Regions from separate parts of the Homo sapiens genome. Here region 1 is linked to region 2. The links come from fine-mapping of genetic effects on gene expression. A gene starts in region 2. The other region holds a variant in brackets. All regions are shown on one strand. Distances are from middle to middle.

What was found. PIP is the estimated chance that this variant, and not a neighbour inherited with it, causes the effect.
Region 1: its variant is fine-mapped to the expression of MYLK in whole blood (INTERVAL, PIP above 0.99).

Annotation. Positions count from the first base shown.
Region 1 is chr3:123,682,780-123,698,381 of GRCh38, forward strand. It overlaps MYLK (myosin light chain kinase), which reads right to left. Exons shown (of 34, transcript NM_053025.4): 19 at 9,956-10,072. It overlaps MYLK-AS2 (MYLK antisense RNA 2), which reads left to right and starts at 6,865. Exons shown (of 3, transcript NR_046629.1): 1 at 6,865-6,937; 2 at 8,798-9,055; 3 at 9,460-9,628. LOC105369194 (a long non-coding RNA gene) reads left to right here and starts at 10,037. Exons shown (of 3, transcript XR_924417.4): 1 at 10,037-10,143. RefSeq lists an enhancer at 1-524. The variant G/A (reference allele first, on the strand shown) is at 11,431.
Region 2 is chr3:123,876,955-123,892,556 of GRCh38, forward strand. It overlaps MYLK (myosin light chain kinase), which reads right to left and starts at 7,378. Exons shown (of 34, transcript NM_053025.4): 1 at 7,252-7,378. It also overlaps a transcript of CCDC14 not described here. RefSeq lists a silencer at 7,258-7,417.

The DNA.
Region 1 (15,602 bases), 190 kb before region 2:
TCTTCTGCAGACCAAACTTTGCAGTGACAAACCAAACGGAGGCCTCTGAGCACACAGCCAGCATGCCTCCCACCTCTGAGACGGGGTCTAGGCCCCACTGTGGGGCTTCTGCTAGACCTCCCCCAACAGGCCCAGTGAAGCTGGGCACAGCTGCCTGCTGGGCGGACCTAAAGATGCTGGGCGGTGCCTGCCCTCAGGCTCTGTTCCACACTCCCTCTGCCAGAGGAAACCCTTCCTCATGGAGGGCAAGCAGGGCGACATCACTTGGCTGGGCTGGGCTGGGCTGGGTGGAAAGGCCCTCACTGGCCCCCAGGACACTATGGGGAAACCATCCAGGAACTGGGATAAGGAGGAGCTGGTTGAGTGGCTATCACTGGGCCCCAGCACTTTCACTGGCCTTCCTTTCCCCACAAGGAGCACTCTTTGGGGACGGCGCTGAGAGAGTCTCCCCCTTGAAGCCCCCTCCCTGGGCATCCTTTTCCTGCTCCTGAGGAGAGGAAGCTAAGTGGGGGTGGGGGTGGGTGGGGGGACTTTCCAGCAGAGGCTCCGCCACATTCCTGAGGCTTGGCTGGGGAGGAAGTGCCCTCTCATGGTCCGCCTCCAGGACTGGCAGTCAGGGCTGATCTTGCCTAGACTGGGCTCCTGGGGCTCTGAGGGGTGGGCGCAGGGAGCAGAACTGGGGGCTGGGAACATACTTCTCCCAGCAAGTGGACTCTGAGCTGCCTCTGGATGCATTTCTCCTTCTGGGAGGCATTTAGGCCCCTCGCCTTCTCCAGAACATGGATCTGCCTGCATGAGTCCCTCTGCTCATCATCACCCCGATAGGCTTTCTTCCCAACCTAGTGCCTGCCTCCTCTCTGCTATGGGTAATCCAGGGAGGAGGCCCTGTGCGGGTGTTGCAGGCTCATGGCAGCTCAGAAGCAGACAGGCCTCCGGGGGCTGTGGGGGCAATCCCCCACCAAAGACAGCCGAAAGCCCTGCATGCACCATTGTGGGCCTTAAGTAGGACTACTTAGCAGTATGTGACGGGGTGTTGGGGGGAGCAGACAGCCAAAGCAACCCTTTCAAGTAGCACTTGACACCAAAACGCTCCCTTGCCTCCACTCCCCACTGCAAGCTGAACTCCTGCCACCTCCCATACGGGCAAAGGAGCCCCAGATGGCACATCAGGGGTCCCTGCTATCTGGAGTGGACACTCTTAAGCTCCTCAGGAGGCTGCCTGTAACCCAGCATGCCAGTTCCATGAGGACACAGAGAAGCAGAAAGCCATGGGGCAGGGATGATTTCATTTTCTTACACTGGACATTTTCCCCAAGGATCGTGGTCATTCTCAGCTACAGAAAAATCCTCTGGACATAGTTATTTGTCAGCCTCGGTGGATCTCAGCCTCAGCTGTATGTTAGAAGCACGTGTGCCAGGGTATCACACCCCACAGGTCCTGGTTTCATTGGTCTGGGTTGGGGTCTGGGCACGATATGATCCAGAAGCTCCATGGATGACTGATATTTGGCCAACAGAAAACTCCTCGTCTCTCCTCAAGCACAGGGAGTGCGCAGGGAGTGGCTCCAGGACTATTCCAAGAGGCAGAAAAACCTAGCAGAGCCTCCCCTTGATATCTGGGGATGAGGGTGCCATAAACCAGGGGCATGGAGTCAGTCTAAGCTTCCCTTGTCCGGGCCTCTCCCTTCTTCCCTTCCTTGAAGACCAGCATTTCTAACAGTCACCAATGACAATGTAAAGAAAGGTGTACCCAGTAATTGTTTTGTTTGGCCCCTTTTTTTTTTTGAAATGGAATCTCACTCTGTCACCCAGGCTGGACTGCAGTGACATGATCTCGGCTCACTGCAACCTCTGCCTCCCAGGTTCAAGTGATTCTCATGCCTCAGCCTCCTGAGTAGCCTCCTGAGTACACGCCTGACTAATTTTTCGTATTTTCAGTAGAGATGGGGTTTCGCCATGTTGGCCAGGCTGGTCTTGAATTCCTGGCCTCAGGTGATCTGCCTGCGTCAGCCTCCCAAAGTACTGGGATTACTGGCGTGAGCCACGGCACCCGGCCCTTCTTAAGGAAGAGGAGTACAGGGCAGACTATGTATGCAGTTCTGCACTCCTTGGCTTCAGCACTCATTCTCCTGGTGAGTCTTGGAGCATAGAGGAGGGAGAAGAAGAAGGATCAGGTTTGCTTTTTTAACTGATGAGTAAGCTGAGGCACAAGAAAGCAAAGTATGAGAGGCCCAGTTTTCCTGGGCTCCTGAAAGAAGGGCAGCAGGTACTGAGACTCCTTTCGTCCTCATGGGGTTGTGTTGGGCTTTACTTCCAAGCATCACCACAGTAGAGGCCAAGAGAGTACAGCTCTAGCTTTGGCTTTGTCATCAGCAACCTTGGGAACTTGGGCAAATAATTTAAACTGTCCCATCTCTGTTTCCACATCTGTACAAGGGAATCACTTATTTTCTCTACCTCATGGTGTTTTGACGCCCAAAGGAGAGAACACATGCAACGGTGTTTTGGAAAGCAGGAAATGATCATTTATCAGCCCAGCGTGGTGGCTCACGCCTGTAATCCCAGGACTTTGGGAGGCCAAGGCAGTTGGATCACTTGGACCCAGAAGTTCAAGACCAGCGTGGGCAACATGGTGAAACCCCGTCTCTACAAAATTTACAAAAATTAGCCAGGCACTGTGGCATGTGCTTGTAGTCCCAGCTGCTTTGGAGGCTGAGGTGGGAGGATCACCTGAGCCCACAGAGCTTGAGGCTGCAATGATCGTGCCGCTGCAGTGATCATGCCACTTAACTCCAGCATGGATGACAGAGTGAGACCCTGTCTCCAAAAAATGAAAAAAAAAAAAAAAAAAAGAAAATGAAAATGATCACTTATGAATTAATTCCTCTTGATAGCCACATTCCCTTACCTCCTTCTGAATCAGCTTTAAAATTTTCCACCTTCAGAAAACACTCCCTGCCCTGCCCCATCTGCCTCTGCCTCCGTCCTCGGCCCTAGGGTGCTGGGTTTTCACTGGACGTGTCAGTACACTACCCTGTAATGTGCTTTGAGTCTTATTTTTAGAAGTTTCTGCAGCACTTTATCTTTCCATCTGGCCATGAGGAAAGGGGCTGAAGTCCCCCTTTCAAACTAGGCACACCCCAGACTCGGAGCCCCAGGGGGTGGCCGCGCTCCACTTGAAGTGTCAGCACGGTGGGGCTGTGCATGCACCACGGGGCCCTGCCAGGGATGCGGAGCCAGCAGACCTCCATGCGAACTGCAGCAAGGAGTGGGCTCGAAGGGCCATGTGCCTAATCAAAACCAGCTTTGTGCTCACATGGCTGCCCAGGGGATAAAAATAATAGTAATATAAGTTTAAGAGCAGCTTGTATTTTCTATTTTAATCATTTTGTGATGAAATTAAACTCCATTTCTAGATCTAGGCCCCCAAGGCTGAAGTCCTTTGCTTGTGTCCCCAAAGAAGTGTGGGGGAGGAAGATGGAGGTGTGAGGAAGTGGGGGGCCTCTACATTGAGAGGAAAATGTGTCCTTATATAGACAATGCCTCACCCCTCCCACTCCTGGGCTCTGGACTCAAGCTCTCTGGGCAGCGTTTTTTTTTTTTTAATCTCCCCCAAGAGGCTGGTTCCCTGAACTCTGACCCCACGCAGGGGGCATGAGGTCTTGGGAAGCTTCTGGGAGGGGTCCAGCTTCTAGGGGCCCCCAGTGGGGCAGGGCAGAGGGGCTGGGCTCCAGCCTCTCCCTGGGTTGGCTCATCCCTCCTTGCTGGCCTCTCTCTCTGACTGAGTGCAAGCAGTGTGCTAGCGTAGTAAGGAAGAGAGATCAGGATGCTTGCGCTTTCTGGCTCTGCTGCTTAGGAGTTGTGAGTCCCTGGGCAAGTTCCTGAACTTTTCTGAGTCTGAGCTTCCTCACAAGGAAAACCGAAATAACATCACCTCAATAGAAGAGTGAGGGAGGTGTGGCCAAGTCGTAAGGTGATGGCTGACATTTACTGGGTATTGACTCCATGTATGCACGGTGCTAAGTACTTTGTATGCTCAGATCAGGTTGAACTACACCATTCGCCAGTATTGAAGTGTTTTTGACCTACAAAAACAGCAATTTTATTTAGTTTCACATAATACCCGTTAGTTGTCTGTGATGATTTAAAGAATAAATGTGGGCCAGGCGCGGTAGCTCACGCCTGTAATCCCAGCACTTTGGGAGGCTGAGGCGGGTGGATCACCTGAGGTCAGGAGTTTGAGACCAGACTGGCCAACATGGTGAAACCCCTTCTCTACTAAAAATACAAAAATTAGCTGGGCGTGTTGGCGGGTGCCTGTAACCTCAGCTACTTGGGAGGCTGAGGCAGCAGAATGGCTTGAATCCAGGAGACAGAGGTTGCAGTGAGCCGAGATCATGCCACTGCACTCCAGCCTGGGCAAAAAGAGTGAAACTCTGTCTCAAAATAAATAAATAAATAAATGTGGGGGTGGGAGCAGACTTAGTAATATGGCAGGGCTGAGGCCAAGAAAGGAGGGGTGGATCAAAATCAGCTCAGCAATAATCAGAAGTGCCCAGGGGCCAAGATAACAGTGGATCACAGTGGTTAGGCACCAAGGCTTGGGTTTAACTTCCCACTCTGCTAGTTAGGGTGACCTTGAGCAGGTGACTCAGTCTCTGTTTGCCTGAGATGAGGCTATTGTTACTATCACTCCCCTGAAGCCCTCTTGCAAGGTCACCAATGACCTCAATGTTGGCAAACCCAATAGCCAGTGCTCAGGCTCATCTTTATTTGGCAGCAGCACCTGACCCTTCCTTCCTTCCTTTCTTCCTTCCTTCCTTCCTTCCTACCTTCATTCCTTCCTTCCTTTCCTTCCTTCCCTCCTTCCTTCCTTCCCTTTCTTCCTTTTCTTCCTTTCTTCTTTTTTTTTGACAGGGTCTCCCTCTGTCCCACAGGCTGGAGTACCGTGGTACAATCTTGGCTCACTGTAGCCTCAACCTCCCATGCTCAAGCTGTCCTCCTGGCTCATCCTCCTGAGTAGCTGGGACTACAGGCATGCCCCACAGCATCCAGGCAACTTTTGTATTTTTTGTAGAGACAGGGTTTCACCATGTAGCCCAGGCTGATATTGAACTCCTGGCTCAAGCAATTCACCTGCTTCTCAAAGTGTTGGTATTACAGGTGTGAGCCACCACACCTGGCCTGGCACACTAATCTTGATCATTCCTTCCTTTTTGAAGTTCTTAGCATTTGGTTTCTGGGACACCCCCATCTCCTGGGTTTCTTCCCATCTCACTGGAGTACTTCCTTCTTAGTCTTCTTCGCAGGCCCCTGTCCTGCCCCTGCCTCTCTCTCTCTCCCTCTTCTTATAGCCACCTCTGTACTCTCCAGGGACCTCATTCAACCCCAGGGCAGTGAATGGCCTCTGTGTGTGGATGGCTCCCTGTATCCCACCTCCAACTCTGACCTCCCCCTCAACTCCAGGTTCACCTAAACACCTGCCTATGTGACAGGACCGCTTGAGAGGTCAAATAGCAATCTTAAACTTCACATGCACTAAACTCTTGATCGTGCCCCCCAGCCCCACCATTGGTCTTCACTCCCCCATGAAAACTGAGTCATCTTTAACTTCTCTCTCTCTCCATACCCAGCTCACCAGCAACTCATATCAGCTCTACAGCCAAAGAGGTTATGAATCTGATCACTTCCTGTCCCTATTGTGGCAACCCCCCATTGTGCTCCCTGCTTTCCCTCTGACTCATCCTGGGTCTGGTCATCACATGGACATGAGTGATCCTTCATAAATGTCCAGTGTTGGCCCATAACACTTAGAATAAAATCTCATTTTTTTTGTCCTAGCCAACACTGCCTGGATCTGGTCCACGGTCCTCCTCAACCTCACTTCCTACCATCCTGCCCCTTGCTCATGGCTCCACCACCCTGGCCTCCTGCCTCCTGAAACGCCTTAAGCACAGTGTCCTCAGCTCAGGGCTATGCTCTTGTTGTCACCTTGTCCCTCTTCCTTCCCTGCTTCCTTCAGTCTCTGTTCAAATGTTCCTTCCTCAGAGGGGCCTCAGTGACCACCCCCTCCAAAAATGGTATTCTCTCCCCCATTACCCTGCTTTGCTTTCTTCATAGCTGGTGACATTACCTGAGGATATGACACAGCTGTTCACCTGCATTACTGCCTCTTTCCCACTAGAAAAGTCCCAAAAGCTGGAACTTTTCCTACTTCATTTACTGTTTTAAAACCAGCTCCTATGGCAGTGCCTGGCACAGAGTGGGCACTCAGATATTAGTTGAATGACTGAGTGATGGCATGAGTACCCACTGGAGTGTCCCTTCCCATCACAATCATGCATGACCCTCTGTGGTCACAAAGCCCTGGTCTCACTGGTACCAAAAGCTGGATGCCCTGGCCAGGGTGGCTGGGGACAGGAGGCCTGAGTTGAGAATGACTGGATGAGCCAGTGAGGGGCTAAGGTGTTTTTTGAGTCCTCTCATGGGATTCTGGCCTAGGAAGGACTTAGTTTCCTCACTGCTCATCTGGGTTGGAATGAGAGGAAAGGGGTTACTGAGTCCCACGTGCAGAAGGACCTCCCCACAGGGAGGACTGTTACTCAGGGAGGTCTGGATCACTCTGGGAGCGGGCCCCACCATGGTAATTCACTGCCCGGGGAGGCTGTGTCAGGCTGTGGAAAGGAACAGGTTTCAGAGCCAGACCACTGAGTCCTGCCAGGATATTTCATGTTGTAATTCACTGTGCAGGGTGGAGCCCCAACACCAGATCTACACCTACTGTCTGTGGGGCCTGGAAGGCAGCTGACCCTTGGTGAGCCTCAGTTTGCTCACTGAGAAAGACACCCTGCCCAACTGTTGCATAGACTGAAAATGCAAAGTGCACAAGAGTCTCTGGCCAGGACAGGCATTGAAGGTCAGCTTGTTCTCCTCCTGGGTGAGTTTTCGGGCAAGTCCACGTTTACTCTAGGTTTTAGCTCCCTTCTATGTGGCACAAGTTAACCCTTGTCTTCTGCTGAGTTCAGAAGGAAGGGTGATATGACCATAATCAAGCAAGTTCATAAACACCCCTTTTCTTAGGAAAAAGACCCAAACACATGATTAAAATAGCCAGCTGTGCTGTGTTATAAAGGTTACATCCCTTATCTTTATGATATGAGGGAATCAGTAGTGTGGGTAATGCTATTTTAGCCCCATTTGCCTCATTTTTATGAGATTTTGAAAGATATGTTGGCCTCAGATGTATGGTCTCGATGGTGTTTGGCACAGGATGAGTGAATGATAGCGACTTTCAGGGGCCAGGCCAGCCCTGCTGAGTGGCTGGGGAAGCCAGTCTGAAGTCAGCACCAGCTGTAGTCCCATCGCCTAGTGGAGATGGACCTCATTGCCCCATAAGAGGGATGAAGGCCTGGTTCTATGCAGAGGTTGGGTGGGCAGTTGCAGCTGGAGACAGGCTGGAAGAGCCCACACAATGGCTGGGCTTGAAAATTCAGTCATTGTTGCTGCTTACGGCAAGTAGTTCTTCAACGTATTCTGATTCATGACTCCTTTTGAGAATTTGACTAAAAACTATGGACCCCTCTCTTCAGAAAGATGCTCCAACCCACATAATGCAACATTTTGCCTGTAATTTCAGGGGAGGCACAAACCCACTGGGATCCCCAAGTCAAGTATGATGCCTTGGGGAGTAGGGAGAGCTGAGGGGATGAGGGGACAGAATGAGGGCAGGAGATGTAGCCTAGCCAGTGGGGTGGAGCACCAGACGATAGAAAGGCGACAGGGGAGCTGTCAAAGTGACAACAGTCCTTTACTACTTTCCTAGAGAGGCTCTTGATGAAAAAATAAAGCTAAATGTGGGCAAACAGGATGCTAATATATCTGTAAGTATAGCAACAGGGAAAGAAAAGCAGGGGGAAGAGGCCACCCTTATCCTTTCTGTCAACAAAACCAAACCCAATGGACTGAGAGTCAGTCCTGTTATCTCAGCTGGGCTCCCTCCTATCACTTTTCTAGCTCTTCTTCCAAGACCCAGCTCCCAATTTGCAGCTGGAGGCCTAACTCTGCATTTGAAGGAATTAGGGATAAATAATGATGGTCATCAAGATTAGTGGAGAGGACAAGGGAATCTGCCAGCAGACTCTGGGCAAACAAAGCCTTTTAAGTTGCAGAATGAATTCCCCAAACCTTAAAAAAAAAATCCCCAAGTGTATTCAGTAGGGGAAAAGGAAATTTCATCTTGAAAACAAATCTAGAAAAGGTGCTGACATTTTACAGATAGGGAGAATGAATTGCTCTCCTGCCTTCAGCTAGCCATGTAAACAGGACCTAAAGAGGCTCCGAAAGCCGATAACCTCCTTCACTAGCTCGGGAACCAGTGTGAGTCCCAAACGAGCAGAGGGGTGTTAGACGTGGGCTTCAAGGATCATGTTTTCAGAAACGCTATACTTTACAGTGCAGCACCTGTATAGAAAGAAGCAGGACTGTGATCTGGGTGGGTGACAGCCTGGGTGAGGAGAGACTCCCACACAGGAGTCATCAGCCACAGCATCCACTGTGCAGAACCTCAAAATGTGTCCCATGCCCCCTCTGAATTGAGCATAAACTTGGACACATCAAGTCCGCTTCCTTAGACTCAGAGCCCCTATAGCACATATACGCACGATCTCCAAGGAGAAGTACACAGTATTAGATGAGTTCAGCTTACCTTTCGGCTATTAACAATTAATTCGTGCTGCCATTGTGTTTTTATAAAAAAGACTTTCTTTTCCACCTCTCTCCCATTCATCATGTTCCATAGAGCTCAGCTCTGTGATCAGGAAACCAATTGTAAAGTCCAGAATGAGGACACGGGCTCTACATGGTGTGGAATGGCAGTGAGACGGGCTAGGACTTCAGAACTCAACTGATCACACACAGGAGGGAGAAGAACAACCAAGCTGGGCTTCAAGATGCCTTATTTGGACACTAGTTTTTGATGTGTCTCTGATGGTTATTAACCAGACATTTCAAGGGCAAGAAACTATTTCCCCAAAACTACCTTTTGAGACATTTCCAGGTAAGTGCCAAATACAAAGAAATGATCCTGGGTTGTGAGTCCTGGGATGGGGTTCTGGCCCCAGCTTGGCCCTAAATGGGCCAGAGAGCCCCCCTCCAAAATGCATTTCCTCTCTGGATGCCCTCAGTTTCTTATCTGTAAAATGAGGGTGTTCATCTAAATCATCACGAGGTTCATCCTACTTCTCAGGTTCCAATTCTATACTCCCCAGGAAGGAGAGAAAAAAGAGTCATGAATGCACTTCCTGCATTTCCTTAGGACAAAGCCCAGTTCCTCGCAGCTTGGCACTGCCTCTTCCTAACACAGAAACTCCGCTAAGACCTGGCAGGCCTGCTTTCTCCCCGATGTGTCCTCCCACCTCCCTCTGCAGTATTATTATTACTACTACCATTTTGTTTTGGCAGAGGCTGCCCTGTCCTCTCTGTCCAGAGACTCAGCCCCGACTCACCTCCTCTAGGAAGTCTCCCACACGGACCTCGCTCTGCTCCCTCCTCCTCACGGCTGACCCTGCTGGGTCGTCCTGCCAGCTCGGACACTTGTTTGTTGTGGCTTTTGTAAAATACTCTGTAGTCATTTTCCTGTGGGTGTGTCTTTTCTACTGCCCAGTGCCCCAGCTTCCCAGCTCAGAAGGTTCTGGGTGTGGGGATCAGGACTGGGAGGGGGACAGGACAGCCAGGGGAGGGGTGAAGCCATGTAGGTGATCAAGTAGAGCTGCCACTTTCCTTCCTGTCTCTTTTTCTTTTGGCAAAAGATATTCATTCATCCAAAATGAATGCCTTTGGGTAGGGAGGGCAGTGTTGGAGGCAGTTCTGTCTGACAGGCAAGGTATGGTAAGGAAGGGAGGGGCTGAGAAATGGGACCCCTGTGTATGGGTGGCGGCGATGGGTGGGCACGACCTACCATCCACGGTGACTTGGCAGGAGCACTCCGCCTGGCCAGCGTCATTCTTGGCTACACACTTGTATAAGCCTCTGTCCTCAGGCAGTGCCTTCTCGATGGAGACGGAGCAGAGTGAGCCTGGGGAGGAAGAATTGTGGAGTGAACCAGGTGTGGTCGTAGTACCTGCCCTGGCATCTGGAGCGCAGCAGGTGAGTGTTACTCGCACGGGCAGCCTCTGGGAGCCCAGAAGCCAGAGGCCTTGTGGGAACCAATCCCCCACTCCTCACCAAAGCCAGGGAACTTTCTGCTTATAACCCATGTCCAAAATAACTGATCCCTAAATACGTTCCTTCCTGATACCTCCTCCCCCACTCCAAAGAGTCCTCTTGTGGGGACATAATAGAAAGCTGCAAAAGAAGGGAGAGAAATAGCCTCTGCCTTTGGAGACCATCCAATACAATACAAGGAGATGCACACAGGCCCTGCCCCCTGGACGTCACCAAGAGAGAAAAGGAGTCCGACACAGGGTTACAGACCTGTGTTAGGAACAGTGACAGGTGAGGAGGTCCCACTTTGTTTACAGCAGTGATGCTGTGACTGCATTCTGGAAAAGGGAGCTTTGAAGCTTTGAGCAAAGAAGTGGGTGGAGGAGGCTAGGAGCCCTTGTCCAGGAGGGGCACCGGCCTGTGGGAAGATCTGTTGGGAGGTGGTGACTACACCCAGGAGCTGACTTTTTAGGAAAGGTGTCTGAGCTGGAGAACCACGGCCAATGAGGGGGACTGGACCTGCAGAGGGGCCCTCTGGGGCTGCCTCCCTTCGGAGTTGGGTCTTCTGGTTGCCCCAGAGAGAAGTGGGGATGGCCTTTCTTCTCCATGGACTCTCCCCTGGGCCTGCCTTCACTCCCAGCACCATCTTCTGGCCTGGTTTGGGGAAGGAGGTGTCAGCTAGGCACACACAGGAATCTAGGGTCTCGTCCTGGCCCCTGCCAGCTCTCTCATCCCAGAACTGGTTACTTCTCCTCTGGGCCACCCCTTGGGGAGGTTCCCTCAGGGTGTGGAAAGAGGCCTGCTGGGCCAGGCAGAAGGGCAGCAGTTCCTTATTCTTGCTTTCAGATGCACAAACAAGTAAATAGCAGGGCATCCTGCTCAAAGCTGCCCCTGTTGTCAGGGAAGCAACCGTCACACAGGAGGACAGAGCCAGGGCCACATGCACTTTGCTGCCTGGAGCTCCCATCTCATGTCCCACAAGCCACTGGCATTGGGAGGGAAGAGCTGGGTGCATTCTGAGTGGACACCAACTACTGTCCCTGCCCCCCATTACACAAATGCACAGCCTTGACCAGCAAATACAAGGAGATTAGAAAGAGTAAGGATATCAGTTCTGCCCAGAAAACCTCACTAAGGCTGGAAGAGGAAGGAAGGGTGTAATATTCCCCTTTACTCCTTGCCACCAGGGTACTGTTTTAAACAGAGAAACCTTCATCCTATAAACCACCT[G/A]GGGCAAGAGGGCTGATCTGCACCCCACTCCCCACTTCCTATACCCTTATACAGACCCCAAACCTCGGGAAGGCTTCACTCTGTTCTCTTCCCTTTGTAGTTAGGAGTCAGAATTTGTAGAAACTGTAATGGAGAGGATTTAGGCTGGAATTTTAGGAAGTCTGTCATAAGAGTAAGAATCGTGAGGCACAGGAGTGGGGAATGAGGATAACCATGTCCTGGAGAGAGAACTTTCCATTCATCTGGGTGGGCGGGAGGATGCCAAGATGACCTCTGGCCCCAACTAGAGGGGCTCAGAGGCTTAGCAGAGACCAATCCCATCTGGAAATTTTCCCTCAAGTCAGGGTGGGGCTAAGGCTTTGGGAACAGATATCCCACCCCCAACGCACATCCTGTTCAAATCCTTGATTTTCTTTCAGTTTCAGTCCCTCAGCTGCCTTGAGTCTTAAGTCAAAATGATACAAGCTGCAAAGACAGTACACAGAGAGTAGAGGGGCATGTGGACCCGGCCCCTGCCTCCTCTCCCAGGGCAAGGCATGGGGCAGGCAGCTTTTCCAACCTGCCCAGAGCCTGGACCCCTGGCCATGTGCATGGGCTTGGGGAGGCCCCCCTAGCAGGCTTGCAGGCTTGGCTACCCCAGATGAAGAATCTGGTATTTCCTGTGGGACAGTTCATTCTTGACCTCTAGAAGAAAAGCTGTTTCCCAGAGGTTTTTTTTTGAGAAGCCTCAGCCTGGTGGGGAATTCTGAGAGGGAGATGAGGGGGATGGGAGAGGTCAGCATCACTGCAGAGCTCCGCCTGGGAGAGCCCCTCAGGGCTGTGGTGGAGTAAGCGCTCCTGGGTCTGAAGCTCCCCCAGCTCTCTCCTTTTCTGAGTTGGGGGCAGAGGGGAGGAAGGGGATGTGGATGGAGGGAGGGAGCTTCCTGGAGGCTCTGCTATAGGGCTGCCTCAGTCAGCCTACCCAGCCCACCTGGCAAGCCCAGACAGTAAGACTCATCTCCAGGTCACCCCTGCAGGCATGGTGTCCTCCTTGTTCCCCCTAATCCCCCAGGCCTAGGCGGACCTCTTCTGTGCTCCCAACTCTGAGCTCACCCATGTCAAAGCACGGCTCACAAGGCCATTGCTGACCTGCATGCCTGTCTCCCACACCAGCTCTCAGAGGGCAGTGACCCTGTCTAACACCACTGTTTTTCCTAAGCCTGGAATGCAGTCACAGTAAAACATATTTGTCATTCTGAGAAGGATGAAGGCATATTTCTGTAGCAGGTGATCTGGTAGGATCTATGTAAGAAAAGGTCACAAACAGTTAAATATAACTTACTATTGAAAAAGATAATATATAGTTTCTGAAAAAAGAAAATTCAGAGTTCTTTGAGTGGATTATGCACACAACAAAGGGCATTAGAATAATGCCTTGCTCATAGTAGATGCTGCATAAATCCATTTTTCGTAGGATGAACTTACATGGGTTTTTAAAAAGCCTTTGCAAAATTCTACCCTGAAGGCAATTAAAAATGAATTACCTATTCACAACAGCAACAAAAATGAATCCTCATTGTTAGACTCGGAAAAGTGTTTTGCCAGGAGGAGGAGCCTGGCCTGGAGACAGGAAACAAAGCATAAAGATAAAGCTCTTCTCAGGCCACCACAGAGCTCCCCTCAGCTCACGGGACCATCGGCCTCCCACCACCCCTCAGCAGAGGCAGGTCCCGGAAGGGCTAGGAAAAGACTTGGGGGCAGAGGGCAGGCCCAGTTGGTGGTAACTCTGAATCCCATCAGCCCTGCAGCTCTAGGGGTACAGGAAGAGGAAGGACACCTCCACGTGTCTGTGTCCTGCCACAAATCAACTAGTGGTGAACTCTAGCCCATGGCTGTCAAACCTCTTCTGCTTTCCTCAGCACGAAAGGGGGTGAACTAAATGGGGTGATGTAATCCTGTTTGGGTGGGGGTCTGTGGGCTATGAGCCCTATCTAAGCTACAGACATCAGAGAAGTCCCCTGAAACCTATAAACAGCACGTCCACTAGCAGTTGGTGCACGCAGATACACAGGTTGATGGGGAGGGGACAGTGCAAGAGTCTCTCGTGGCCAAAGGTGGGTGACAACAGGAAGGCATCCTGGAGGAAGTGAATCTTGTTTGTAGCAGAGCTGACAGGGTGGGGATCAGTGCAGTGGAGCAAAAAGGGCTCCAAGTCAGGAAGCCGGGGGCAGGGCCAGTGCTGAGCTGAGTGTGAAGGATGCAGGACGGGAGGCCAGCGGAGCCATTCCCTCACCTTCCCCTAGAAGCCTCCTCCAACCACCGGCTTCCTTATTCCCACTGACACGACCACTGAGACCCCAGCCACTCAGGCACCCACACTTAGTGGTCTTCCATTCCTTCATCTTCTTTACCTACCCCCACCCCCATCCTGCCCTTCCAAGCCAGGCAACAGGTGCCATTACTTCTATCCTTGCTTCTTGAACTGGTCATTCCCTGACTGTGGTTGTGGCTACTACGCTAGTCTAGGCCTCACCATCTTCCTCTCGACCTCTTCAGTAGGCTCTGTATTTGTCTTTTGGGCACAGAGTCCACCAAAACCCCTAAACTGAGCTTCATGTACAGTGTTCTTCATCCCAAAATCTTGCATGATTCCCTACTGCCTTTAGACTGGAATTCCTTGGCAGAATATAGGATGAAACTGGGGCCATGTCATCCTCTCCAGCCCAGAACAAGCTGTTAGCAGGACGCCTCTGCTGCTGCGGGGCCCCCGCCTGGAAGCCCGTCCCCTCTGGCCTGTCTTCGGGGCTTAGATCAAAGTCCAGCACTCAGCTCCCTCTCTTCCCACTTCCAGCAGCTCCTCCCGACACACTCATAGCACTTGTCAGCACTTGGCTGTAACAATTTTATCACTGTGAGTGTGTCTTCTCCTTCCACATCTATTGAGAAAAGACTCCCTCCACCTCTCAGAATGCCCTACTGCCTGAGGAGGGACCTGCTTAAATGGTGACTGATAGATGAAGCCTTAAGATAAGTTTTTTCCTTAACAAAACACTGGGCTCTTGAAGTCTTGGCGAGTGAAGGGACAGAAGGTGGGGCCGATTTTTTGAGACAACGCACTCTCCTGTACTGAAGCAAGACAGGCCCATTGCAAGGTCTGCTTCCACCACTGCAGGGAAAATACCAGAAACCTGGCAAGGCTAGGGGCACCATCAGTGTTTCAACCTTTGGACAACTCTTAACAAAATCGAGGAGTAAATAGTCATTAGTGTTTTCTGTTGATAGACAAATTCTCAGCTGCCACCAGTACCCTGATAAAATAATAGGAATTAACTAAGAGGTCATATAGCACGGTGGTCTAGGCACGGGAACTCAGCCACCTGAGTTCAAATCCCAGCTCTGTTACCCCCAGCACCTTGCATTTGGCAAGGTACTTAACTTCTCTGTTAGGTGGACAGTACAGTCATTGTTGGGAGGATTAAATGGGTGAAAAGTGTAAGAGGCCTAAGATAGTGTCTAACACATAGTGTTCAACATATGTCAGCTATTCTTTAAACACAATTTAAAAATATTTAGAAGATGTCTTACAGTTTGATTTGGGGCTCTCTCTGGAATCCCTTTCCACCTCTCCTGGTCTCTCTCTCCCCTTCGTGTGCAGCCTTCCTTGGATCATTTCTTCTGCTGCTGCTCTGGATCTGAACTGTTCCCTCTGGGACGGTTTCCATGGGAAGGGAGGCTGGAGTGGCTAGGATCTCTAGGCTCTTTACCACTAAGGGACCAGCAGGGAAAACATACTGCAGGCACTCAGGGCACGAGAAGACAGTGGCTAATGGCTCAGAAGAGTTTCTGAGACCAGGCCTGGGGTCTGCCTTACATCGCTTAGTTGAGTGAATTGTTTGTAAGTGGCTGTTGATGGCTCTGGGTTTAAACCCCATGCAAGCCCAAGAACAGCTGCCCCCAACTGACTTAACCTCAGTTTCCCTGAGGCTGGAGCAGCCACAGACCTCCCAACGCCAAACCTGCTGAGACCCTGAAGCCCATGGGCAGCGCCAAGCCTGATGAGAACCTGAAATCCACTAGCAAAGAAGAACTCAAGAAAGATATTAAGAATGATGCGAACTGCAAGAGAGGCCATGCAGGGACCACAGATAATGAAAAGAGATCAGAGAGCCAGGGGACAGCCCCAACCTTGTCCT
Region 2 (15,602 bases):
TCTGTAAAAAGAATTTTACAGGGACTTATTTCTAGAGAAGTTGAGGCTGAAAAGGTCAGAGGCAGCCTCTGGGGGCAGTATCTGACAGTTATTAGGAACTTAACTCATTCCCTGAACAAATGTTTAAGGATAGAAGAACCTGTCAATCAAACAGACAAGTGAAGAATATTCCAGGTGAGGATGAACTCACAGTCACAGTCAGAGACACAGGAAAGTATCAATTGGGCTGAGACAAGAAGTCTGGTTGTAGTGGGATCAAGGAGTGTGGGGGTGGCTGCTATGAGACTGGGCTTGGAGGTCAGATTATAGAGGCCTGTGAATGGCTTAAGGCTGTTCTGTGTGAAACAGGGAGCCACCGGGGGTTCCTGAAGGTGGTGACACAGTCAGACTATGTTTTAGATCAACAAAGCAATCAAGTGTACGATGTATTTGGGCTACAGAGAAGCCACAGTTAATACTCCAAGTGTGAGCTAGTACGGTCTGGTCAGGAAAAAATAGTAATATCAAAGTAAAACCAAGTGTTTCTCTGCCTGGGATAATCAGCAGGCCCACAGGGGAGGAGCTGAGTCCCTAGGTGCCTGCCCAATCACAATAAGAAGCCTGAGAACTCCCTAAAACATACTATTGGGTAACATCAGTAGCAACTGCGTTGATTGTATCATGTATACCATGAGTGACTATTGGAAAGGCAGGAGCTTTTGATAGTAATCAGAGGCAGGTTGCAAGATAAGAACTGTTCCTCCAGGCACGTTCTAAAGCCACCTGCTGCTTCCTCATGAACATACTCGTTTCCACAAGATCAGCAACCAAGTGATTACGAAAATGATCACCCTGTTGACACTAATAGGAAAATACCAAATGGAAATTTAACTTGGACAATGGGGAAGTTTAGGAATACATCTGCTTGAGTCATGTTCTGTGAATGGACTCAGTACTTGGCTGGAAAGATGCATAAAGCTCAGGAGAAAAGTTAGAATGAAGTATACCTAGCCCTACAGAAGACATAACTGAAGAAGTGAGGTGAATGAGTGGAAAGTGCCTTCTCATGGAGTGGCACACAGCAAATCCCTTAGAATCTTCTCTGAGCACCTCCATTTACCCCATTAGCCAGTCCTTCCACCCAGATGTACTGAGCACCTGTGGTGTGTCAGGCACCAGGCTATGAGTAAGGATACAAGATGAACCACAGCTGGTGACCTCCAGGAGCACAGTGCCTAGCAGGACACTACCCTTACGACCACAGCACAAGCACAGGTTGCCAAGCACGTGTTCATCTGCCTACAGCCTCATCAGATGAGTAGAGAAGGGCTTCTCTGTCCATTTAAAGGTGCACAATCTGAGACCTGGAGATACCACGTCACATAGCAGAAGACAGTGCTGAAGCTAGCCCCCAAACCCGGGGCATCTTCCTGGTGTTTCCCACAGCCTCAGATGACATTCCATGTAGTCTGACCCCAGGAAAGGGGAACAGCACTCGGTATCCAGGGGCCCTGAAGCAGACAGATGGCAGTGATCACAGGCCAGATAAAGGTAGGACATTCACTCCTGCTCCCCATTGGACCCTCAGACTAAAGAGGACAGCCTTAAAGGACTCTAGAGAAGCAGGTGGGCAGATGAGGGAACCAATGTGTATCCATTCTTCCTGCCTATGTCAGGCCGTTCACCTTCCTATGCCATCACCATCCTCCACCAGGATAGGTAGTGATGAGAACTCTGGCTGATGCTGGCTCTACTACTTGGATTTTTTTTTTAGACGAAGTCTTGCTCTTGTTGCCTAGGCTGGAGTGCAGTGGTATGATCTCAGCTCACTGCAACCTCTGCTCCTGGGTTCAAGTGATTCTCTTGCCCCAGCCTCCCGAGTAGCTGGGATTACAGGAGGCTGCCATCACACCTGGATAATTTTGGGATTTTTAGTAGAGATGGGGTTTCACCACGTTGGTCAGGCTGGTCCTGAACCCTGACCTCAGGTGATCCACCCGCCTTGGCCTCCCAAAGTGCTGGGATTACAAGCGTGAACCACGGTGCCCAGCCACCACTTGGCATCTTAGGCCAGAGTTTCCTCTTCAGTCCAATGCAAAGGTCAAGTGGACCTGACCCTTAGTCCTAACACCCTGTGATTCCAGAACTAGGAAGTGAGCTACAATATATGAGGCATGAAAAGAGAACACAAAGCCCCAGAAACCCAAAAGTCTTCTACGGGCCTCTGGGCTTTCACTCTGGCCACCCAATTGCCTCTTAATATTTTTGATCGAGTATAAAATAAAACAATTTCAGATGTTTCAGAAATATTATTGGCAGCAGAGGGAAAACAAGGCCAGAATGAAAACCACCCCCAAAATAAACCTCAGGACAAGCACACCTGCATGTTTGGGAGTGCGCTGCAAGGTCAAAGGTGTTGTGCCAGGGCCCAGCAAGGAAGGAGCTAACAGCCTTCAGACACCGGAGCCAAATGTTCCTGCCTTCCTCTCTCCTGGCAAATGCTTACCCTCCCTTCCTCCTCTCCATTTTTGAGGCCTTCCTGCATCACTCTAGCCCCTGAATTTCTTGTCATCCTTTAATTCTGTTAATGAAACTTGGAAATTGCATGTTGTCCCTGTTTTCTAATTACCTATGTGTTAGCTCTCTTGCTACCCACCCAGAGTCTCTTAGCATAGACACATTACCTTTGTTTTTTGTTGTTGTTGTTTGTTTGTTTCTTGAGACGGGGTCTCACACTGTCGCCTGGGCTGGAGTGCAGTGGCGCCATCTTGGCTCACTGCAAGCTCCGCCTCCTGGGTTCATGCCATTCTCCTGCCTCAGCCTCCCGAGTTGCTGGGACTACAGCCGAGTAGCTGGGACTACAGACGCCCGCCACCACACCTGGCTAATTTTTTGTATTTTTAGTAGAGACGGGGTTTCACCGCGTTAGCCAGGATGGTCTCAATCTCCTCACCTTGTGATCCACCTGCCTTGGCCTCCCAAAGTGCTGGGATTACAGGCGTGAGCCACCGTGCCTGGCCCACATTTACCTTTGTTTTATAAGCCTCTACAGAGCTCAATAGAAAGTAGACATCATTAGTGTCTGCTGGTTGATTTACAAGTCATTATATAGACCTGGAGAACACTGCCCGGTATATATAATAAAAGCTATTCTTTGTTTTGTGCCTATTTATATTCCTATATTCATTTAATTTTTATAACCGCCCTCATTGTCAGATGACAAAACTCAAGTCAGCTCACAGAGGTTAAAACCCATGCCCAAGAACACCCAGCCAGTAAGTGAATGGGATGGAACTGAACCCAAGTTTAACACCAAAGATCACATTCTGCCTGGCTGCCTCCTCCTGCCAGAAACCTGAATGAGACCTACTATACATCAGAAATCCTCATCTCTGAAAACAAGAAAGGTAAACAGCATCCTCAACTATAAAAGCCCCAAGTTGCAGGTGTTCGGTTCCCCCAAAGATTATGAGAAATAACCCATAAGGTCCTGGATTAACAAATTAGCATCAGATCTGAGCGCCCAGAGCCAAGGGAAAAAAAATCAAGAAGCAGGTCTGAAAGAAAAGGAAATCCTCTCCTCATCCCTTTTCTTTTGTCTCCAAAGGGGCTTTCTGTCTCCAGAGGGCTCTGCACTGAAGACCCAGGGAAGGAGAGGAGCAGAGGGTGGAAGGGGGGCAAGGAAGTACCAACAGAGGGGGGATGGGGACAACGTGGGAAATCTAAGAAGCTGGATCTACACAAAAATTTCCACAGCTCCCTAGTGGGGTGCCCATTCACCCTCAGACACTGAAGTACAGTGAGCAGGAGGGCAGGGAAAAGAAGGTGGTGGGAGCATCTGGAAACACAGCCTTACCTTCCAGCCCATGAGGCAGCAACTGTTGCTGGCTCTCCTCCTGCCCCAGCTGACTGGGCTGGCTGTCAGTAAATTTCATGGGGGCTGCAGCCCTCACACACCAGGTGCATGCAACAAGGAGGAGGGATGCACCTGTTGGCCCGCAGTGCAAATACGGAGGTCCACCCACCTTGAGTTTGTGAGGGGAATGCATTTGCTCAACCTGTTGGCATCAAACGAATGGAAAAGTGTGCAGCCAAAACTCAAGGAAGAATAAAGAGAATCCATCTGCAGAATGGTGCAGGTGGGAGAGGGGCGTGGCTTGTATGGGCACTGCTTCCCCGCACAACCATGTCTGCCTGCTTGTAAGGTAGGAGGCTGGGGGAGCACAGGGAAGAGATAGAAGTCACATGGCATAGGAGCTCATCACAGTGACATCGTTCTGTCCCACTCTGGCTCACTGCTGGACGGTTCCTTGATTCTGAGCACTCAGGCCACCCAATAGACCCTGCTCAGGCCTAAGCATCCACATGGACATTTTCCATGCAAATGGCCCTGCCTCATGTCCTCTGCATGCACCCTCTGCTGGCCAAGTTGAGCGAGGACATTGTCTTTTGTTGGGAAAGGATACTTTTTAAGTGTTGTTTCTAAATTTTACTACATTTGCTGAAAAGACAGGACAGGAAGCTTTTAAGAATGAACAATCTCCCAGCCTGTGTGGGTTGGTTTGAGCTGTGAGAGGTGCAGCTGGGCTTCCAAGTAGGCTTATATTTCCAGACTCCCAAGTATTGTTCTCAGAAAGATACTAAATAAGACACCCCATACTCATGGGACACTGTACCCATGTCCCCAAGCAAGGCTGCATTCTGAAACCCCCACCCCACCTTATGAACTTCCTAAAAGACAGACAAGCCAACTAGTTGTGTTTCAAACTCTAGGCTCATCTTATATTTTGAGGATAAAAGCAAGGGGTCATTCTCAAAGACACTGAGTATATGGTGACCCCAGCGCATTCACAATCTATGCCTCTGAGACCAGCAAAGATCTCCCTAGCCAGAGACCCAGAACCTTTCCCCACCCTTGGAACTCAAAGGCCTCTCCCCTCTGCACCATCTGGGTCACCTCCTTCTCTGACAAGCCTTCTCAGCAGATTACCCCCGCCACCTGCCAGCCAGGAGCCCCTCCTCTGCAGTGACTGTAGCTGTCTGTCTACCATTTTCAGGCAGCAGGTGGGGCCACCTGGCCTTACCAGTTAGCCTAGGAATGTTCCAAGGCCTAGTCTGCTCTGCATATGTTTTCTAAGATCTGGCCCCTGGGGAAGCAGCCCCTGATGAAGGGGTGAGCAAACCTCACACAAACAGCAACTACTCTGGCTGGGTGCAGTGGCTCATGCCTGTAACCCAGCACTTTGGGAGGCAGAGGTGGGCGATCACTTGAGCCCATTAGACTAGTATGGACAACATGGTAGGACCCCATCTCTACAAAAAATCCAAAAAACTAGCCAGGTGTGGTGGCACACACCTGTAGTCCCTGCTACTCAGGAGGCTGAGGTGGAGGATTCCTTGAGCCTGGTAGGTCAAGGTTGCAGTGAGCTGAGATCACGCCACTGTACTCCAGCCTGGGCAACAGAGCCAGACCCTGTCTCAAAATAAAAAATAAAAATAAAAATAAGACAAGGAAACATCTACAATGCTGCAGCTACCCTCCTCCTCAGCTAGCCAGTTATTACACAAAAGAAACTGAACATGGGAGATAAACCAGCATAAATGCTTCCCCACTGTGGGGTGGTTCTCCAAGCTCATGCTTAGCTGCAAATGAGGTCCAGCATCCTTTGTATCATCAGTGAACAATGAGACAGACCTGCACATCTTGGCAAAAAAAGCTCTTGTGCATGTCCCCAGAGTACCCGCTACCCAATCCAGCATCCAGAGTCCAACCACTCCGGACCCAGGACCAACTGCTCAGGTTCCTCCCAGACCCAAGGCTCCTGGCCCACTGAGAGTGGGAGAAAAAGGGGTAACCTCACTCTGGGCAGGAAGGAAAATTCCATGCTGCCCTAGAGCACTGTGGTGCCAGCAGCATCATCCTCCACAGTCCCACAGTGTGCAGGCGGGGAAGAGACTAAGAGAATCACGGAAGAGAGAAGGAGGTCAAGAATTTAAGAGAAAAGAAAACAGTTCTATTAGAACCCTAAATGCCTTGTAGGAACCTAGTAAAGTCACCAGATGCACCTACACTTCTCCCAGAGACTTGCATTGTTGATTCCTGATTCTTTGAAGTGTGGGCGGGGTTCCCCAAATGGTCCTCCTAAGCCCACCATCTGGAAATAATTTATTGATAAGTGCATTTTGACAAAAAGTATTCCATTCAGGTGGAGAAGAACACAGCCTCTCTTGGAAGGGGGATGCAGCTCCAGGGCAGGCTCTCAAAGGCTGTGGGGTGGGCGGGTCATTGCATATACTCTGGTCTTTGCACTTGGGGAGAGGAGGGATGGTAAAAACCAACGGCCTGAGGTCTGGCATCATGCCCACTGCCCAGGTGTTTCCCTACACCCACCCAGCTCCCTGAATCACAACAGCTAATTTTACTCCCTCTAGACTCTAGTAGAGCTGGGTCTTCTCCTTCTGGCTACGAAATAGAAAGTGCCCCGCACCCCAACACACACACCCCAATCTAAAAAAAATATATATCCTTGAAACCATTTCCCCATCAGCCCATCTTCACATCTGCAATGCCACTCCTAGAAATTCAGTCCTTTGGGTCTTGAAGGGTTTTAGTTCCATAAGTTCCAGGGAGGGGTCTACCTCAACCATTGACAACTCACATCTCCTGAGAAGTTTATCCAAAACTTTCCAACTGCAATCATCGGCGAACAAGGTCCCTCAACAATGGGACCCCAGTTAACGCGAAGGAGGCAGAGCGAGGTAAGGAGCTTAAATGAGGAGTATGGAGTAGGAACAAGTCTGCAAAGCCCGCGCCCCAGCTTCGCCTGGGATGGCCAGGTCTGGCACTCGCGGGCCGCCTTCCCCGCCCTACCTTCCCGGAATCACATTTGGGCTGGAAGGACCTTCACGTGGCACCCCCTTCCCAGAGGCCGTCACCGAGTCCTCTAGCGAGGGTCTGGGAGCTGGGAGAAGGGTCCGCTTCTCCTCCGCCCCTCAAATCAAAGGCACCCCCTTCGGATGATTCCTAGAAAGGCAATCGCATCAGTGTCCCCAAGCACTTCATCTCCCCAAAAGAAAACTCGTGCAGCCTGGCGTCACTGGGGTCGTCTCCTTACGCCCCTGACTCCTCGCCGCACCCCGGGGCCCCTCTCCATTAGGGGAGTCGGGAGGCACAGACGGTGGGGGTCCCAGCCCCCACCCAGAACTCCCACCCTCGGAGCCTTGACTTCCAGGGCCCGCGCCTGGACAAAAGCATGGGGCGGGCTCACTCACCCGCGCGGCGAAGGCGGCCCGGGAGCCGGGGCACCGGCGCTCGGCGGGGCGCCCCGGCCGCAGGCGCACAGCGCGGGCTCCGAGCTCGCTCAGCGCCCTGCTGCCGACCGGGCGGCGCGGGGAGCCCGCGAGGCGCGTCCGGGACTGGGCAGGGCGGGGCGGGGCGGGGCGGGGCGGGGGTGAGCGAACCGGCGAGAGAGAGAGCAAGTGGGAGAGCGGAGAGCGGACGCGCGCTGAGGAGAGCGAGTGAGAGCGCGGCGCTACGGGGTCAGGACTCAAACCACCCGCTCCAGCCCCCATGCACTGATTTGCATGACATTTGCATAGCGCTCGGGGAGTGGACCTGCTGCCCTTCCCGCCACGCCCACCCGCCTTCTGCCTCGGAGTCCGGAGCGGAGAATCCGCAGCCAAACCTAGCGCCAGACCCGGGCCCCCCTCGCACTTATCCTGCACCGCCCCAGTTAACTCCTCGCAGGCGGCGGTCAGCGGGCTGGTACTGTCTTGGTGCGTGTCTTAGTCCTACACTGGGAGACCTAGGCCTTAGGTCGGGGTCTGATGCTAGCTTCGTGAGCGTGCATGAGACACTGGCTGCCTCTGGGCCTCAGTTTTCTAATCTGTAAAATGAAGATGTCAGCGGAACCATGGGGCTAAAGTTTTAGTGCTGGAAGGTTGTCTATGTAGTTTTTTTCAGACATCCTCCAGTGGTGCAACTCAGCCCCATGGTTCCTCTGACATCCTCCCTTTGTGTGTGTTAAGAATCTCTCATTGGTTTGGAAGATACCTACAAAGTTCTTTAAATTAAAAAAGGGGAAAGGGGAGGGGGGGGAGGGGAGGGGGAGGAGGTGTTTCTGGTTTTGGCTTGCTTTATATTTAGTTTGCACCCAATATGAAATATTTTATAGCTTCTGATCTCTTCACTTGGACCTTCTTTTGTTTTTTTTAAAAAAACTGTTTACTGCAGGTTAAGGAGTGTTTTTAAAAATTTTTTAATTGTAAAATAAAACATAAATACAGAAAACCACAAAAAACAAATATATAGATATATAGACTAGTGAATTATTATAAAGGGAACATCCTTGTAATCACCACCTGGATCAAGAAATAGAACTCTGCCAGCCACCCCAGGAGCCTCTCCATGTGCCCTACCTCAATGACAACCCCCTTTCTCCCTCCTCCCAAAAGTAACCACTAACCTGACTTTCATGTAGTCACTTCTGCTGCTTTTGTTTTTCTTGGTATCTTCCAAGGGTGCACCTTACCCCTCCCCCCACTCTTTTTTTTTTTAATTTGATTTGCCTTTTCAGTCTTTTCCTTACAATTATTTGTTAAATAACTTAAGCCCTTGATCTGTGAGGTTTTCCAGAGTCTGGGGGTTGCACATTCATGAGGCAATTCAGCATGTTTCTCTGTCCTCTGTATTGACAGCAAGTTGGCAGCTGATCCAGGGTCTTCCTCAGACTGAAGTTTGATGTCTTTTGTAAGATTATAGATGGTTGTGTGTTCTTTTCTTCAAGAGGTACATGATCATGATGTCTGGTGTTTGCTCTTTTTTGAGGTTAACAGCCGTCGATGCTCAATTCCTAGATTCATTAATTAATTGAAGTTTGCAAAATCATGGTATTCTAATAATTTTGTTTTCATTTATTAGTTCATAAGTGGATAAGGAGATGCTTCCTCTCATCTACTATTTGATTACCCTGAGATAGGAAAGGCACGATGAATACCTGCTTTTTTTTAAAAAAATTACCCAGTTTTCAAGTTAAGGAATTGATTCTCTGTCATTCTTAGATTTCTTTAATATCATTATAAATTCATGAATTTAAATATATTTGATAGGTTTCCATCTACGATATTAGAGCTCAAATTGTCCCATCTTTGGCCAGTAGGAGCTTCTTCAATATGGCTCCTGGCTCCTTTTGATAAGATTCTAGTAGTCTTTTTTTTTTTCTCTCTCTCTCTCTCTCACTAGTGTGCAAAGAGCTTCAAAGACCCTAGAAGTCTTTGATAGCTTCCTTGCTATCTGATATGACAAGATGTTCCAGGCACATCTGTACATTTGCTGCCTCAAACCTGGAATCAGCCATTTCTCCAAGAAGCTCTAGTTTTTTTGTTTTTTCTTTCCTTCCTTCCTTCTCTCTCTCTTTTTCTTTCTTTTTTTCTTTCTTTCTTTCCTTCTTTCCTTCTTTCCTTCTTTCTTTCTTTCTTTTCTTTCAGATGGAGTCTCACTCTGTCACCAGGCTAGAGTGCAGTGGCACGATCTCGGCTCACTGCAACCTCCACATCCCTGGTTCAAGGGATTCTCCTGCCTCAGCCTCCTGAATAGGTGGGATTATAGGCACGTGCCACCACACCCAGCTAATTTTTGTATTTTTAGTAGAGACGGGGTTTCATCATGTTGGCCAGGATAGTCTCAATCTCTTGACCTCGTGATCTGCCCACCTCGGCCTCCCAAAGTGCTGGGATTACAGGCATGAGCCACCCCGCCTGGCCAGAAGCTCTAGTTTCTTTTGTTGAAATTTTAAGATAACAATATGAGCACTAGGAGTATTCATTGTTACTAGGTTGGTAACTGTTTCTAGGCCTTTTCAATAGACAGAGCTACTAAAGAATACTTCATTTTTTTATATTCTAGAGAAATATTATTCTTCATAATATTTTCATCAGTTTATATTATTTCCAATTTAATTTCAGGACTGTAGTTTTTACTTAACATATATTACATTAGGACCTCTTTTCTTTCATGTAGAGAATTCTGGTTCTCAAGGACAAAAGGGAGGATGAAATTAGAATATCCCAATTTACTAATTTGCTTTAGTTTGCATTAAACATATAATAATAATCTCAGAATAACAATATTAATACTACCATCATCAGTTTTGATTCTTGAAAACAGTTTTTTTTGCATATGCTATCCATCTTTTATAGTTATACTCTATCTAAATTATCAGCTTCTATAGCCATCTATACCATAATCTTCCTATTTAACCCTAATTTAGTCTTAATTTTACAGTTCTACAATTCTAATCCTAATTAAAGTTCAAATATATATTTAATGCTTACCATTAGTTCCTTATGTTTATGTATCTTTAGTCATTTTGGTTGTCTGAAAGCTTGTCCTCTACTAGATTCCTTAGGAAGGGCTCATGGAAAGAATATGCTCTGAGTTCTTGCATGTTGCTTACAGTTTGTTCATGCCATTTTACTTGAAGGTCAATTTTGTTGGATTCAAACTACTTGGTGTCTTGGTCCAGCTGGGTTGCTATAACAACAACAACAAAAAAAAAAAACACAAAATAAGTGGCTTATAAACAAGAAACATTATTTCTTATAGTTCTGGGGGCTGGGAAGTCCAAGATCAAGGCTCCAACAGATTCAGTATCTGTTGAGAGCCCTCTTTCTGGTTTGTAGACGGCACCTTCTCACTTTGCCTAGATGCCCAAATAACTTTATCTTTTTCTTTCAAATCCAGTAATTTTATTAGAATGTTTGTTGGTCATTCTAGTTTGAAAGTAAACAGTGTGTATTTCTTTCAAAATGTGGTTTCAAATACATATATTTTGTTAATTTCAGGAAAATTTTCTTCAATTAAAGTCTTAAATATTTGTTCTGTTTTGGATTGCTTTAGACTGCTTCTCTGGAGACTTCTATTATCTGCATATTGAACCTTTTTTGTCTATCTTCAACATTTGTCACTTTCCCTTAAATCTTTTTAATTTCTTTCTTCATTTGTTTTTAAGTTTATAAATTTCCCTCCTTTTTACCTTATTTTCTTTTAAGTTTTTATTAGTTATATTTATGTGTTCTTGTGTTCCTTATAGGTCAATCTTTATTTCTCAAATGCTTTTTAAAATGTTTAATTCCAAAAAAAAATAAAAAATAAAACGTTTAATTCTTCTGTGAGTTCTGTTCTAATTTCTGAGTTTCTCTAATTCTGATGTATGTTGTTCTTTCATGTTTCATGTCACTCAGTGTGTATTAGCTTTTCTAGGACATTATAGCTTTAATTTTTTTGAGAATATCTTTCTGGAGGTTATTATGATCTTTATTCACTTTGTTGTAGTAGCTATATGAGAGTTGACCTTAGTATTTTTTTTGTTGATCATTTTTACATGAATTTTGTTTTCTTGAACTTTTAAAAGGAGATTTGGTCCAGACAGTTTTTCAAACTTCACAAAGCTTTCCCGTTTGTTGTTTCTGAGTAGTGTCAAAAAATATATATGGTGGCTGGACTTCTAAGATTTCCTGGCTCTGTTTCCCTCACTCACTTTTATCTGGCTCTTCTTTTTCTTTCAACTTGCATTAGTCAGTTTTCACACTGCTATAAAGAGCTACCTGAAACTGGGTAATTTATGAAGAAAAGAGATTTAATTGACTGACAGTTCCTCAGGCTTAACAGGAAGGATGACTAGGGAGCCTCAGGAAACTTACAATCATAGCAGAAGGTGAAGGGGAACCAAGTGCTTTCTTCATATAGTGGCAGGAGAAAGAGAGAATGCAGGGGGAAGTGCCATACACTTTTAAACCATCAGATCTTGTGAGAACTCACTTATTATCATGAGAACAGCAAGGGGGAAATCCACCCCCATGATCCATGATTTAATCACTTCTCACCAGGCCCCTCCTCCAATTCAACATGAGATTTGGGTGGGGACACAAATCCAAATCATATAATTCCACCCCAACCCCTCTCAAATTTCATGTCCTGCTCACATTGCAAAATATAATTATCCCTTCTCAATAGTCTCCCAATCTTAACTCATTTCAACATTAACTCAAAAATCCACAGTCTAAAGTCTCATCTGAGACAAATAAATCCCTTCTGCCTATGAACCTGTAAAATCAAAAACAACTTAGTTACTTCCAAGATGCAAGGGGGATATAGGCATTGGGTAAATGCTACCATTCCAAAAGGGAGAAATTGCAGCCAGGTGCAGTGGCTCACACCTGAAATCCCAACAATTTGGGAGGCCAAGGCAGGTGGATTACTTGAGGTCAGGAGTTCAAGACCAGCCTGGGCAACATGGTGAAACCCTGTCTCTACTAAAAATATTTTTAAAATTAGCCAAGTGTGGTGGCACGTGCCTGTAATCCCAGCTACTTGGAGGCTGAGGCAGGAGGATTGCTTGCACTGAGGAGGTAGAGGCTGCAGTGAGCCAAGATCGTGATACTGCACTCCTGTCTGGGCAACAGAGGGAGACACAATCTCAAATAAAAAAAAGGGAGAAATTGACCAAAACAAAGGGGCTACAGGCCTCATGCAAATCCAAAACTCAGCAGGGAAGTCATTAAATCTTAAAGCTCTAAAATAATCTCTTTTGAATTCATGTCTCACATCCAGGGCATGCTGATGCAAGGATGCTCTTCCAAGTCCTTGGGCAGCTCCACCCCAGTGGGTCTGCAGGGTATAGCCCCTGTGGCTACTTTCACAGGCTGGCATTGAGTGCCTGCAGCTTTTCCAGGTGCATGGTGCAAACTGTTGGTGGATCTACCATTCTGGGGTCTGAAGGATGGTGGCCTGCTTCTCACAGCTCCACTAGGCAGTGCCACAGTGGGGACTCTGTGTGGGGGCTCCAACTCCACATTTCCCCTCCACACAAACCTAGTGGAGGTTCTCCATAAGGCCTCTGCCCCTGCAGCAGACTTCTGCCTGGACACCCAGGCATTTCCATACATCCTCTGAAATCTAGGTGGAGGTTCATGAATTAGTCCATTTTCAAGCTGTTGATAAAGATATACGTGAGACTGGGAAGAAAAAGAAGTTTAATGGACTTACAATTTCATATGGCTGGGGAGGCCTCACAATCATGGTGGAAGTCAAGGCAGAGCAAGTCACATCTTACATGAATGGCAGCAGGCAGAGGGAGGGCTTGTGCAGAGAAACTCCCATTTTTAAAACCATCAGATCTTGTGAGACCCATTCACTATCATGAGAACAGCACAGGAAGGACCCATCCCCATGACTCAATCATCTCCCACCAGGTCCCTCCCACAACACATGGGAATTATGGGAGCTACAAGATGAGATTTGGGTGGGGACACAGAGCCAAACCATATTATTCTGCCCCGGCATCTCCCAAATTTCATGTCCTCACATTTCAAAACCAATCATGCCTTCCCAATAGCCCGCCAAAATCTTAAATCATTTCAGCATTAACTCAAAAGTCCACAGTCCAAAGTCTCATCTGAGACAAGGCAAGTCCCTTCCACCTATAAACCTGTAAAATCAAAAGCAAGTTAGTTACTTCCTAGATACAATGAAAGTACAGGCATTGGGTAAATATGGCCATTCTAAATGGGAGAATTTGGCCAAAATAAAGGGACTATAGGCCCCATGCAAGTCCGAAATCCAGCAGGGCAGTCAAATCTTAAAGCTCCAAAATGACCTCCTTTGACTCCATGTCTCACAACCAGGTCACACTGATGTGAGAGGTGGGTTCTCATGGTCTTGGGCAGCTCTGCCCCTGTGGCTTTGCAGGATGTAGCCTCCCTCTTGGCTGCTTTCATGGGCTGGCATTGAGTGTCTGTGGTTTTCCAGGCGAATGGTGCAAGCTGTCAGTGGATCTACCATTCTGGGGTCTGGAGGACAGTGGCCCTCTTCTCACAGCTCCACTAGGCAGTACCCTAGTAGGGACTCTGTGTCGGGGCTCTGACCTCACATTTCCCTCCCACACTGCCCTAGCAGAGGTTCTCCATGACTTCCCTGCCCCTGTAGCAAACTTCCACCTGGGCATCCAGGCATTTCCATACTTCCTCTGAAATCTAAGTGGAGGTTTCCAAACCTAAATTTTTTACTTCTGTGTACCTGCAGGCTCAACACCATGTGGAAGCTGCCAAGGCTTGGGGCTTGCACCCTCTGAAGCCACAGCCCAAGCTCTATATTGGCCCCTTTTAGCCAGCTGGAACAGCTGGGACACAGGGCACCTAATCCCCAGGCTGCACACAGCACAGGGATCCTGGGCCTGGTCCATGAAACCACGTTTTCCTCCTAGGCCTCCTGGCCTGTGATGGGAGGGGCTGCCACAAAGGTCTCTGACATGGCCTGGAGACATTTTCCCCATTGTCATGGGGATTAACATTTGGCTCCTGTTACTTATGCAAATTTCTGCAGCAGGCTTGAATTTCTCCTCAGAAAATGGGATTTTCTCTTCTATTGCATTATCAGGCTGCAAATTTTCTGAACTTTTATGCTCTGCCTCCCTTATAAAACTGAATGCCTTTAACAGCACCTAAGTCACCTCTTGAATGCTTTGCTGTTTAGAAATTTCTTCTGCCAGATACCCTAAATCATCTATCTCAAGTTCAAAGTTCCACAAATCTCTAGGGCAGTGGTAAAATGCTGTCAGTCTCTTTGCTAAAACATAACAAGAGTCACATTTGCTCCAGTTCCCAACAAGTTCCTCATCTCCATCTGAGACCACCTCAGCCCGGATTTCATTGTCCATGTTATTATCAGCATTTTTGTCAAAGCCATTCAACAAGTTTCTAGGGAGTTCCAAACTTTCCCACATTTTCCTGTCTTCTTCTGAGCCCTCCAAACTGTTCCAACCTCTGCCTGTTACCCAGTTCCAAAGTTGCTTCCACATTTTCAGGTATCTTTTCAGCAGCACCCCACTCTGCTGTTACCAATTTACTGTATTAGTCCATTTTCACAATGCTAATATGCTAATAAAGACATACCCAAGACTGGGAAGAAAGAGAGGTTTAATGGACTTACAGTTACTCATGGCTGGGGAGGCCTCACAATCATGATGGAAGGCAAGGAGGAGCAAGTCACATCTTACATGGATGGCCGCAGGCAAAGAGAGAGCTTGTGCAGGGAAACTCCCATTTTTAAAACCATCAGGTCTCGTGAGACCCACTAACTATCTTGAGAAAAGCACAGGAAAGACCCGCCCCCATGATTCAATCATCTCCCACTGGGTCCCTCCCACAACACATGAGAATTATGGAAGCTATAAGATGAGATTTGGGTGAGGACACAGAGCCAAACCATATCAGTTCCCAAAAACTCAACTCTTGCCTTCTGTGCACCCCCAGGCCCAACACAACATGGAAGCTGCCAAGGCTTGTGGGTTGCACCCTCTGAAGCAATTGTCTGAGCTGTATCTTGGCCCCTTTTAGTCACAGCTGAAGCTGGAGCAGCTGGGACTCAGGGTGCCATGTCCTGAGGCTGCACAGAGCAGCCAGGCCCTAGGCCTGGCCCATGAAACATTTTTCCCTCCTAGGCCTCCAGGCCTGTGATAGGAGGGGCTACAGTGAAGGTCTCTGAACTGCCCTGGAGACATTTTCTCCATTGTCTTCAATATTAATATTTGGCTCCACTCATGCAAATTTCTGCAGCCAGCTTGACT